Linked DNA regions of Homo sapiens. The protein of the gene in region 3 purifies or fractionates together with the protein of the main gene of each other region. This does not show direct contact. Each region holds a gene or a part of one and is shown on either strand. Other genes may lie near its edges.

What was found. Proteins that work in one complex are often made in the same cells at the same time.
Region 1: the proteins of ZNF445 (region 3) and WDR62 purify together in Homo sapiens (co-immunoprecipitation; one large-scale study listed by IntAct). This does not show direct contact.
Region 2: the proteins of ZNF445 (region 3) and PPP2R1B purify together in Homo sapiens (affinity purification with mass spectrometry, with the first as the bait; one large-scale study listed by BioGRID). This does not show direct contact.

What each region holds. Positions count from the first base shown.
Region 1 is NC_000019.10:36,057,897-36,061,396, reverse strand, and holds part of WDR62 (WD repeat-containing protein 62), read right to left. Parts: intron 2,618-3,500; coding exon 2,526-2,617; intron 1,430-2,525; coding exon 1,367-1,429; intron 1-1,366. UniProt on the Homo sapiens protein: Required for cerebral cortical development. Plays a role in neuronal proliferation and migration.
Region 2 is NC_000011.10:111,742,390-111,745,889, forward strand, and holds part of PPP2R1B (serine/threonine-protein phosphatase 2A 65 kDa regulatory subunit A beta isoform), read right to left. Parts: intron 1,142-3,500; coding exon 987-1,141; intron 277-986; coding exon 134-276; intron 1-133. UniProt on the Homo sapiens protein: The PR65 subunit of protein phosphatase 2A serves as a scaffolding molecule to coordinate the assembly of the catalytic subunit and a variable regulatory B subunit.
Region 3 is NC_000003.12:44,474,871-44,478,847, forward strand, and holds the start of ZNF445 (zinc finger protein 445), read right to left. Parts: upstream 2,801-3,977; 5' UTR 2,721-2,800; intron 1-2,720. UniProt on the Homo sapiens protein: Transcription regulator required to maintain maternal and paternal gene imprinting, a process by which gene expression is restricted in a parent of origin-specific manner by epigenetic modification of genomic DNA and chromatin, including DNA methylation.

The DNA.
Region 1 (3,500 bases), on a different chromosome or scaffold from region 3:
CTCTGGTTTGTAGCTGCTGCCTTATGAATGCTCTCCCAGTTGGAGGCAGCTATTTTATTTTCAGAGGAGACCAAGGCTCTGAAAGAAGTGTCTCACCTGAGATTCCACAGTGAATAGACGCTTGAGCCAGGAATGGAACCCAGCTCTGCCCTTATCACCAGTAACAGAACCCACAGTTAGGAGCAAAAGGTCCAAAAAGCCACTTTCAAGAGGGAATGCACTTCTGTCAGATAACAAGAACCTGCCGTAGCTTAAGGACCGTACCTTAGGGACCATAAGGGCAGGAGAAAACCCACTCCTTATCCATCCACCTGGAGAACTGGGCCAAAGGAGCTGAGCCTGAGCTATGCCAAGGAGGGACATGGTGTGCCTTCCAAAGGTCACAGCCCTATTGGGACCACATCCCCAGGGTAGCAGTGATCAGTTAGCCCCAAGGCAGAGGAGCGGGTCCTTCCCCAGTAAACTTATAGCTGAAGGGATCTTTCTAAAACCCAAATCATGTTAAGTCTTTCTCTTAGAAAATAGCCATCAATATGCCAGATACTGCTCTTTGGTGCTAGGGACACAGAAATGAACTCAGAGAAAGTCCCTGCTCTCAAGAGTGCTCACACTGAGGGAGACCCACAGTGAATACCATCAATGAGGAAACTGGACAGCATATCAGAGATGGGAGCAAATTTTGTGGAGAAAAGCAAAGCAGGGAATAGAGCTGCTGGAGGGCTGGGGGTGAAAAGCACATTCCTGGCCTGTGGTGCCCTCCTGTGGCTGCTCTCTGCACTCAGCATGCTATGCAGACCCTCTACAAGGCTGCAAGGCCTACGGGATGTGGCTTCTGCCTGGTCCAGCCTCATCTTCCCTGCTCCTTTCTCCAGGCACCCAGATCCCTGGCTGCTTCTAAAGCGCCGGAGATTCTTAACCACTGCAGGGCCTTTGCCCTTCCTGTGCCCCCTGCCTGAAGCGCTCTCCCTACAGCTTCTTATGGGTCACCCTCTCGCTTCCTTCAGGTCTCAGAGTCAAGGCAGCGTTCCCTGAGCCTTCTGATAAGGCTTTCCTCCTATTCTCTGCCCACAAACCTGCCCGAAGACATCCTCCATCATTTCCTCCATAGCACTGATCATGATCAGCCCGTAATTTGCTGACTAGTTTACAGTCTGTCTCGCTCTAGCCAGCAGAGATTCTCGTCTCCTCTGGTCACTGCTGTGTCCCCAGCACACGGAACAGCACCCAGCACAGGCGAATGCTGCTGAGCCAACATGTAAGTGAATGAGTGAGCACCTACCCATGAGTATCTCCAGGCTGTGTAGGGGAGGGGAGGCGTGCCAAGCCCCTGGTTCCACCCCTGCCCCGGGCCCAGGCCTCAGCCTACCTGGCGGTGTTAAAGATGTGCTGCTGCTTGTTCTCCTTGGGGTCCAAAATCACCACCACACAGCTGGGAAGAAAGAGGAAAATGTGCCTCAACTGTGGGGAGTGTTGGGGTCCTGGGATGATTCTATTCCCACCAGAAAAGCCCACAAATAAACAAGCTCCCTCGGTTCTCTCTGGTCTCCTCCTCCTCCCCCTCCTCCAGGTGTTTACGCTGAGAATTCTAGGGCACTTTAACATTGCTATGTTCTTAAATAGAAACCAACACTTCCTCTGAGGTAATGTCTGTCAGGCCCTAGGCTAATTAAGACCTTAAGCTGGCTATAATCCCAGCACTTTGGGAGTATGGGGCAGGAGGGATCACTTGAGCTCAGGAGTTTTAGACCAGCCTGGGCGACAGAGTGAGATCTCATCTCCACTAAAAAAAATTAGCTGGCTGTGGTGGCATGTGCCTGTAGTCCCAGCTACATGGGAGGTGAAGATGGGAGGATCGCTTGAGCACAGGAGGTTGGGGCTGTAGTGAGCTGTTATTCACACTATTGCATTCTAGCCTGGGCAACACAGCCAGACTCTGTCTCAAAAAAGCAAAACAAAACAAAAAGAGAGAAAGAGGGATGTAATTGTTTTAAATCCTCACAACTGCCAGGTCAGGTCACGACTATTTAGGCCCATTTATAGATAAGGAAACAAACCCAGAGAGGGGACGTCCTTAGCACAGTGCCAGGCTACATGAGTATTTATGGAATGAACAGCTGTAGCATCTTCTTCAGTCTTCTCAACTATGCAAGCAGAGGGGGTCACCAGCTCTGTTTTACAGAGGCAGAGGAAGAGGCTCAGAGAGCAGCATACATGGCAGAGCTGGGACACAAATCCAGGTTACCTGACACCACAGCGTGGACTTTAATCACCTGTCTTTCCCAGAATCGCTGTCACCTCCCCCCTGTAGTCATAATAAAGGCTTTCATTGCACTCACTACATGCCAGGAACTGTTCTAGACAGAGAGGGGGCTATGGAATCCTCTCCACAGCTCTCAGAGGCAGGCCCCATTCTCCACATTCTACAGGTGAAAAATATGAGGCTCAGAGCGATTTACGGATGGCTTCAGGTTCCAAGCTCCAAATTCCCTAGCAATGATTAGACGTCGAGGCCCTTATCTGCTTACCCTGCCAGGTAGGCCACATGGCCTGTGCCGGGGTCACAGGTTAGGCCACTGCTGTTCTGGGCTGTGATGCCAAGCACCTTCTCGAGTGACACCTGCAAAGAAAAAGCCCAAGTCAGAGGCACCCACCCTAGCCAGCACCACATGGTGCAGCCGCCTTGGCCACCCATTCAGGTCCTGCTACATTCAACACCCACACTGAGCTTCTGTGGCCACGCCATCCACCAGCAGCTAACACTTGTTCTCTCAACATTCCTTTGACAAATACAACGCTAGGTGAAAAGCACAGAGTGGTGAGGAAGAGACAAATCCCTGCCCTCGGGGGGCTCACATTCTACTGGTGATGGGTATGTAGAACATAGAAAAGGAGCAGAACAAATATGTGAAATAGATGCCAAGTAATGATGGGTGCAAGAGAGAAGAAAGCAGATAAGGAGGTTAGGAGCACAGGGGAAGGGGGCGAATGCCGCGGTGAGAAGGTGACCTGTGAATAAGTTTCTAAGTACTTTTTTTTGTTTGTTTTTGAGATGGAGTCTTGCTCTGTCACCCAGGCTGGAGTCAGTGGTGAGATCTTGGCTCATTGCAACCTCCGCCTTCCAGGTTCAAGCAATTCTCCTGCCTCAGCCTCCTGAGTAGCTAGGATTACAGGCACATGCCACCATGTCCGGCTAATTTTTGTATTTTTAGTAGAGATGGGGTTTCACCATGTTGGCCAGGCTGGCCTCGAACTCCTGACCTCAGGTGATACACCCGCCTCGGCCTCCCAAAGTGCTAGGATTACAGGCATGAGCCACTGTGCCCGGCCTCTTAGTACTTTTATATGTATAAAAGACTTGAATCCTCCCAACAAGCCACGAAGAAGGCTCTATTATCACCCCTGTTTTACAGGTAAGAAGTCTGAGGCCCAAGATCCTACATCTGCAAGTGGCAATGTTGATATACAAACCCAGGCAGTCTGGCTCCAAAGCTAGCACTTTG
Region 2 (3,500 bases), on a different chromosome or scaffold from region 3:
ATTATTTTCTTTAAGCAAACCCAGATCTTAAGTAAAGTGAAAATCCCTGAACTTAATTTTAGCTAATTACTCCCCACTATAAGGTAAAATTTAAAGTACACTTTTAAAACAAGACTAAACACTAAAATCTTACTTGGTATCTAGAATTGGTCCAATCTTTTGTAGAGATTTGGCCACATTGAAGCGAACATTTGCTACTTGGTCTCCTGCCATTTTTAATACGATGGGCAGCATTTGCTTAGTAGTTATTTCCTGACCACAGGCCTCAGACAGTGCCTAGAAAAATAAGTAAGATGGCACATTTAAAATACTTTAAAAAATTCCAAAATCTAATGAAACAAATTAATATTTAATAAGAAAATAATTGACCAATAGGAAAATATTTCTAGTTTGAGCAGCTGAGTGGGGGACACAAGAATCATTCAAATGATCAGAGAATTAGACCAGAATTCACAAATAAGTTGAACTTTTAAAATACTGTAGTTTTGTTCTTTGTTTTTTTTTTTTTCAGGCGGAGTTTTGCCTTGTCGCCCAAGCTGGAGTGTAGTGGCGCGATCTCAGCTCACTGCAACCTCTGCACCCTCTGCCCCCTGCCCAAGGTTCAAGGGAGTCTCCTGCCTCAGCCTCCCAAGTAGCTGGGACTACAGGCATGCACCACCATGCCCGGCTAATTTTTGTATTTTTAGTAGAGACAAGGTCTTGCCATGTTGACCAGGCTAGTCTCAAACTCCTGACCTCAGGTGATCTGCCCGCCTCAGCCTCCCAAAGTGCTGGGATTACAGGCATGAGCCACTGTGCCCAGCCAATACTGTAGATTTTAACATGAATTTTAAAATTGACATTTTCTCTCATCTCCTGTCTATTCCAATTAATCAATACAAGACATATATTCCAAATAGAAGACAGTATACTGATAATTCAGAAATAGTCATGAATAATTTTGCTTTAATGATTAAGCTTAGCAATAACAGTTATGTTATACTTACATTAATGCAGAATAAAGTGGTCATTCTATGCAAGTAATTAGGATCATTTGCCATTACTAACACTTTGGGAACAATAGTATTTTGGGCCCACTCTGTACCAAACTTCTGAACTAGTTTCATGAGGTTGTTGGTGGCAGCTTCTCGGATGGCGTATACTGCAGAAGAGGTCAAAAACATGTTCTCATATCGCTTATTGTTTTTTAAGCATAACCTAGTTTACTTACATGAAAATCAAATGTGGACCAAAAGCAAAACCCCTCTGCAATCAGACTCCACATGTAATCATGCTGCAATGACAAGCATGCTCAGCTCCAACTCAGTTTCCAAGTGTGCATATCCACAGAAAAGGGATGCAAGGAGCTCACCATATGCATCATCAATTATTTAACAAATACAAGTGCCTACTATGTGCTACAAAAAGAACACAGAAGATACTTTCCCTCACAAGAAATATGCTCTTATCAGAGAAATGAAAGCTAACACACTCCATGAAGTCACATGGTGTAAGAGCAATTAGAATGAAGTGTGGCATTGTGTAGTAAAGGCTGTGAGGGTTGTAGCAGTGCAGAGAAGAGTGAACAGGGAAGGTCTAGGAAGGCTTCGGCACAGAAAGAAGCCTTGACTGGGCAGTGAAGATTTGGGAGGATCTGTGTAAGTGGAGAGAAGCGGGGAGGAATTCCTAGAAAGGGTAAAGACATGTATCCAGGACACAAACAGAAAAAACTGAAACCTGTGAGACTTCTAAGTTAGACAATTAGGGTGGACCCAGACTGCAGAGCATTATGAAAGACTTAGATTTGATTAGGAAAAACAGTGATGGGTTTTTAAAGCAAACTTGTGACCTGATGACCAATGTGGAATTTTAGCAAGATTATTCCAGCAACATCACGGAGAAGCGACGTTGACTGAGAAAGACAACAAGGAAATGGTGTAGAGGCCACTGTGGTCATCTATACAACAGCAAATACAAACATCAGACTGACTTGCTTCCTCTCCATGAAAATGCTTAGGTTGAAACAAGATGTCAAATGTCTTTGAATCAATGTGCCTGCCTTAACATCTAATAATTCCCTATATCCTTTGATCATTTATCAAAGACATAAAGCTAGATAATAAAGGTCTCAGCTACAATCCTCTCACAATTAGTTGCTATATACAGCACTGAACAAAAACAAGCCTGGTGTCACTTCACTTTACAGATCCAGTAAGACTCAAAATTTGGGCTCAGATTAACAAATCGAGGGTGGTAGGTACTAATTCCTTATTCTACTTCTCTCCCCAGGTGGGCCCAACCTTCCTGGGATGATAGGAAGGGCAGGAATAGCTATCCAAGCCACAGTCCCAGTCCTAGGCAATTTATACAAGCCTCCAACCAAGAAATAGGCAACTTCTTCTATTCATAGATCCTTCTGGGCAATGATGTTGAGAACAAGCAAGACAGCATAGACAAGTGACCCATACAACTGATTATCAACACTTAAACTGACAGTCTACAGGAGAAGCAACCTTTCGGTAAGACTCAGATGCACTAAGGAGCAAACTCAAGTCAACTGTTTTACTGTAATACAGATTCCTTCCCTTCATATCCATAGTCTTTGTCTTTGGCCCAAACCCTTCCCTGTCCTCCCCACTAAAGAGGAGCTAGCTAGAGTATTTGTGTCTTCTCCTCTAATTTTTTTTTTTTTTTTTTTTTTGAGACAGAGCCTCACTCTGTCTCTCAGGCTGGAGTGCAGTGGCGAGATCTCGGCTCACTGCAACCTCCGCCTCCTGGGTTCAAGCAACTCTCCTGCCTCAGCCTCCTGAGTAGCTGGGATTACAGGCGCCCGCCAACACATCCAGCTAATTTTTGTGTTTTTAGTAGAGACAGGGTTTCACCATGTTGGCCAGGCTGGTCTCGAACTCCTAACTTCAAGTCATCCACCCGCCTCAGCCTCCCAAAGTGCTGGGATTACAGGCATGAGCCACCATGCTCAGCAAATTACTATTTTTTTTAACACGCTTTAGATTTTTATCATAATGCCATTACCATAGGAAGGGATCTCTACTGCCAGAAAAACCAGAGACTGGGGAACACACATGCATAGCCTTGACCAAGACCTTAACTGCACTGAACTCTACTTGGCCAGATGCCTACTATGTTCTTGGTTCCTCTGACTGTTTTCAGAAGAATGCAAACCATTCCAGAGTTCTGCCTGTTTTCTTTTGTCTATTTCTGTCTCTTTCTCTCTCCCCATCTCCTCTCAAGGCCTGGCTGACCTGCAAGGTTTCTTTGAATGTCTATCTATGCTCAATAACTGATACCTTCTCCTTTCTCCTATAATAAATAAATAAATTTCCCTTCTACATTCCTCCCTCTGATCAAAACTGTCTACTCAACCACAGGAATATAGGTGAGTGATACTTTCTTCCTTATACTTCTCTGGAATTTTCACAATGTTCTTTTAGTAGTTACCTAACTAGGGGAAAAGTTTCAAAAACTCTAACTGATCCAGTGATCATTATATAACACTTATC
Region 3 (3,977 bases):
CCTGTAATCCTAGTACTTTGGACGGCCGAGGCAGGTGGATCACCTGAGGTCAGGAGTTTGAGACTAAAAATATGAAAATTAGCTGGGCGTGGTGGCGCATGCCTGTAATCCCAGCTACTCAGGAGGCTAAGGAGGGATAATTGTTCAAAGGGGATGGGGCGGGGCAGAGGTTGCAGTGAGCTGAGATCATGCCACTTCACTCCAGCCTGGGTGAAAGAGCGTTAACTCTGTCTCAAAAAAAAGGTTTGTCTTATCTTACATTGAGAAGTTCCAGTCATTCAGTCATCATCATTTTTATCTGATTTATTTCCATTTTAGGTATTACAGGTTTTGTTTTGTTTTTTTGAGACGGAGTTTCACTCTTGTTGCCCAGGCTGGAGTACGATGGCGTGACCTCCACTCACTGCAACCTCCGCCTCCTGGGTTCAAGCAATTCTCCTGCCTCAGCCTCCCAAGTAGCTGGGATTACAGGTGCCCGCCACCATGCCCAGCTAATTTTTTGTATTTTTAGTAGAGATGGGGTTTCACCATGCTGGCCAGGCTGGTCTTGAACTCCTGACCTCAGGTGACCCACCCACCTCAGCCTCCCAAAGTGCTGGGATTACAGGCATGAGCCACCATGCTCAGCCAGGTATTAAAGATTAACTTGGTAAGTGGCTCTTAAAAATCGAGGACATTTAATACTGTCAATTTTTATCTACCAATTTGGATTCCTTCTTTCATTAATTTGTCATATATTTATTGAGAACCTACTGTATGTTCCAGTACTGCCTTGAGGCGTCTATGAGGAGACAGATTCGTGGTATGCTAAACAGTGACAGCTGCTACATAGTAATATAAAACAAGAGGCGGGCACGGTGGCTCACGCCTGTAATCCCAGCATTTTGGGAGGCTGAGGCAGGCAGATCACCTGAGGTCGGGAGTTCGAGACCAGCCTGACCAATACGGTGAAACCCCGTCTTTACTTAAAATACAAAAATTAGCTGGGCGTGGTGGCACACACCTGTAATCCCAGCTACTTGGGAGGCTGAGGCAGGAGAATCACTTGAACCCAGGAGGCGGAGGCTGCAGTGAGCCGAGTTTGCACCACTGCACTCCAGCCTGGGCAACAAGAGTGAAACTCCGTCTCAAAAATAAAATAAATAAAATAAACAAGGAAAAAGAAAATAAATTTAAGAATAGGAAGGAAAAAAAGAAATTCATAAATTCAATCTTACAGAACACCTAACAATTCGCCTGAGAGTCACAGAAATGTACTCTTTCACATTGTTTCTAATACAAAATCTTGAAAATTGCAAAATACAGTGTTATGTTTTACTATAGTTTACTCTCTGACATCGTAGACTGCTTATGCACTAATTCTTCCTGGATACCGGAAGCCAGAGAAAACCTAGCGGTGGAATACTTGCCATTTTTCATGCTTTTTGTCAGTTTCCTTTTTAAGTGCATACTGAGGTTTATCTTCAAAACATTCTCATCTTTTCGGCTTACAGTAAGACTTTTTTTTTTTTCTAACCAAAATGTGTCTGCCTTTCATTAAGATAACATAAAAGAGCAGCCTAATTCTTTGGTCCCTGAATATGCACACACATGCATGCACACACACACACGCAGACACACACACAACACATGGAGGCTCTCTGAAACTGCTTAATCAAATTACTGCTCAAACCACTCCCTGGCACTTCCTTGCAAAACAACCAACCTAATACTGAGTTTTTAGTTTTGCACTACAAGCCGTTTGAAACAGAATAACATTCTTTCCTGGCCACCACTTTTAAATTCGGAAGGAGACAATACTCTGATCTCTTAGGCCTGTGCAAGTCAGAGTGTGCTACAATCGCTGCAGGTTAGAGCTCTGCCTTTGTTTAAAAACTGCATTTTATATACTAGTTACTTCATTGTGAAAGATAACCACCCTGACAAACAAGATTTTGCTATTTTTCTGCACAAATGTCACTTCACCATTTAGAGCTTCATGCAAATGTGTCTCCTACAGAAAATAAACTGCAAACACGATTTCTTAATTATCCTCGCCAAAAAAAAAATGTTTTAGTGGTGTCATAATGCCAGCACTAATTTTAGCCAAAATAAGAACAAATGCATTCTACAAATTCAGGAGATTATAATTTTTAAAAAGCAGTAGTATGGATATACTTAATGTCACTGAATTACACACTTCCAAATGGTTAAATGGTAAACGTTTATGTATTGTATGGTAAATGTTATGTGTTATTTTGGCACAATATTGTTTCCTCACAATAATACTAACAGGTTTTTTAAAAAGCAAGAGCACGCTCTCATTTCGTAATATATATTTATGGATGTCAGTGTGCAGAATTATGCACAGATATTTTAAATGTCAGGAGGCCTGGAGACAGATTTCAGGATTGCGGCTACTTTTACTTTTCTTCTACTTTCCCGTGTTATCTAATTGTCTCTGATAAATACGCTTTATATGCAGAATTGGATGAAACGAGAAAGCCCGGAGAAACCCGGGCTCCAGATTCTCTACCCCGGACGCCTGGGAGGCAAAGAGGTTCTAGATACGCCCTCAGCGTGGCGGGGGCGGGATCCACCGCCAGACCCCCGCCACGGGCGCAGCCTCCAGGCCGGGCCCCGTCCGCCGCCCGGGCAGGCCCGAGAATGCCGCGGACTTCGGGGAGCCCCGCGCCCGCAATGCCGCCACCCCCACCCCCGCGCCCCGCCAGGCCTCTCACCGACTCCCGCCGCCGAGCGACAATCGGTCCACCCGCCGCCACCGCAGCCGCCCGTCCCGCGCCTACCTCCCGGCGGCTCCAGTCGCGCACGCGCGTCGGCGCCCGGGGCCCTCCGCGGCCTCTCTAGGAAACTGGGAGGCCCAACGTCTCTGCTTCTCTCCGGCTCCGGTGCGGCGGGCGGCGGGGCTTGTCCAACATCCCTCACCTCCCTCAGTTGGACATTTCCCTTCCACGCTCGGATGCCCAGCCGCGCCTGTTTTCTTGCATCCCTCCTGTCGTGTCTGCGGGGCTGCCCTGAAGGCCTCTTTCCCTCCAGGGAAGAAAGGGATCCAAAGCTAGGGGTGAAAATAGGGCCAGCAGTATCTAGCAGACTGGTCCTGGCCAGGAGAAGGGGTTAAGGGAGCCACTCATTCTTCGCCTGGGTACACTTCAAAGAGGGGAACCAGATCCTACGGGAAGCTAGGTGCCAGAACTCCTGCCTTTCCAAGACGAGCTCATCCCCATCATCACCATACCCAGGAATACTTGTTCATAGCCAGCTCAGAGGTGCACCATACTTTAGCTTCCCACGGCCTTCACTCGTTTTCTCCTGTGGGTGAATTCTAACTAGGCTCGCCTGGTGAGTGAACAATGATGCCATTGCCCAATAATATGTGGAATCTGGGAGGAGTAGGTTGGGGGTAGGGGGTGGAGGGGCTGCTTGAAGAGGAGGTGAAGCAACCTGGAGAGGTTGCCCACCCCCTGTAGGAGCAAATGTCATCTATTGCCAGTGCCAGAGAACCTTGAGGGTGCACAGCCAAAGCCATAAGGCCATCTGCTGCCATTGGAGGGCATGCTACAAGCTGCTGTCCTGGTAGTCCTCTGGTTTGTGCTTCCTAGTGGCAGGCTGCAACATGTTGACGATTGATCTTTCAGATGGGCATTGATGATGCCCATCTGTGCCCTGAGGCTTTGCTTTACTCATCTGATCCACCCCTTTTTAATGCCCCAGTCACCAAAGATGGAAACAGAGAATAGATCCTGAACACCAGGAAGATGGTGACAAGGTGATAGAGAAACAGATGGCACATTCAAACAAGGTAAGTGGGGAGAGTTCACAAGGGGCGATTTACACAAAGTGGACAGGGTTAAGGAAATGCAACACGGAGTGGTGCAGAATCCCATGGCTAGCAAAATTTAGAAGCTATTCTCACCCCTAGGAGCAGGCCATCTGAGAGAAACTGTGGCTTTCAGTTGAGGGCTACATCCAAGCCATAG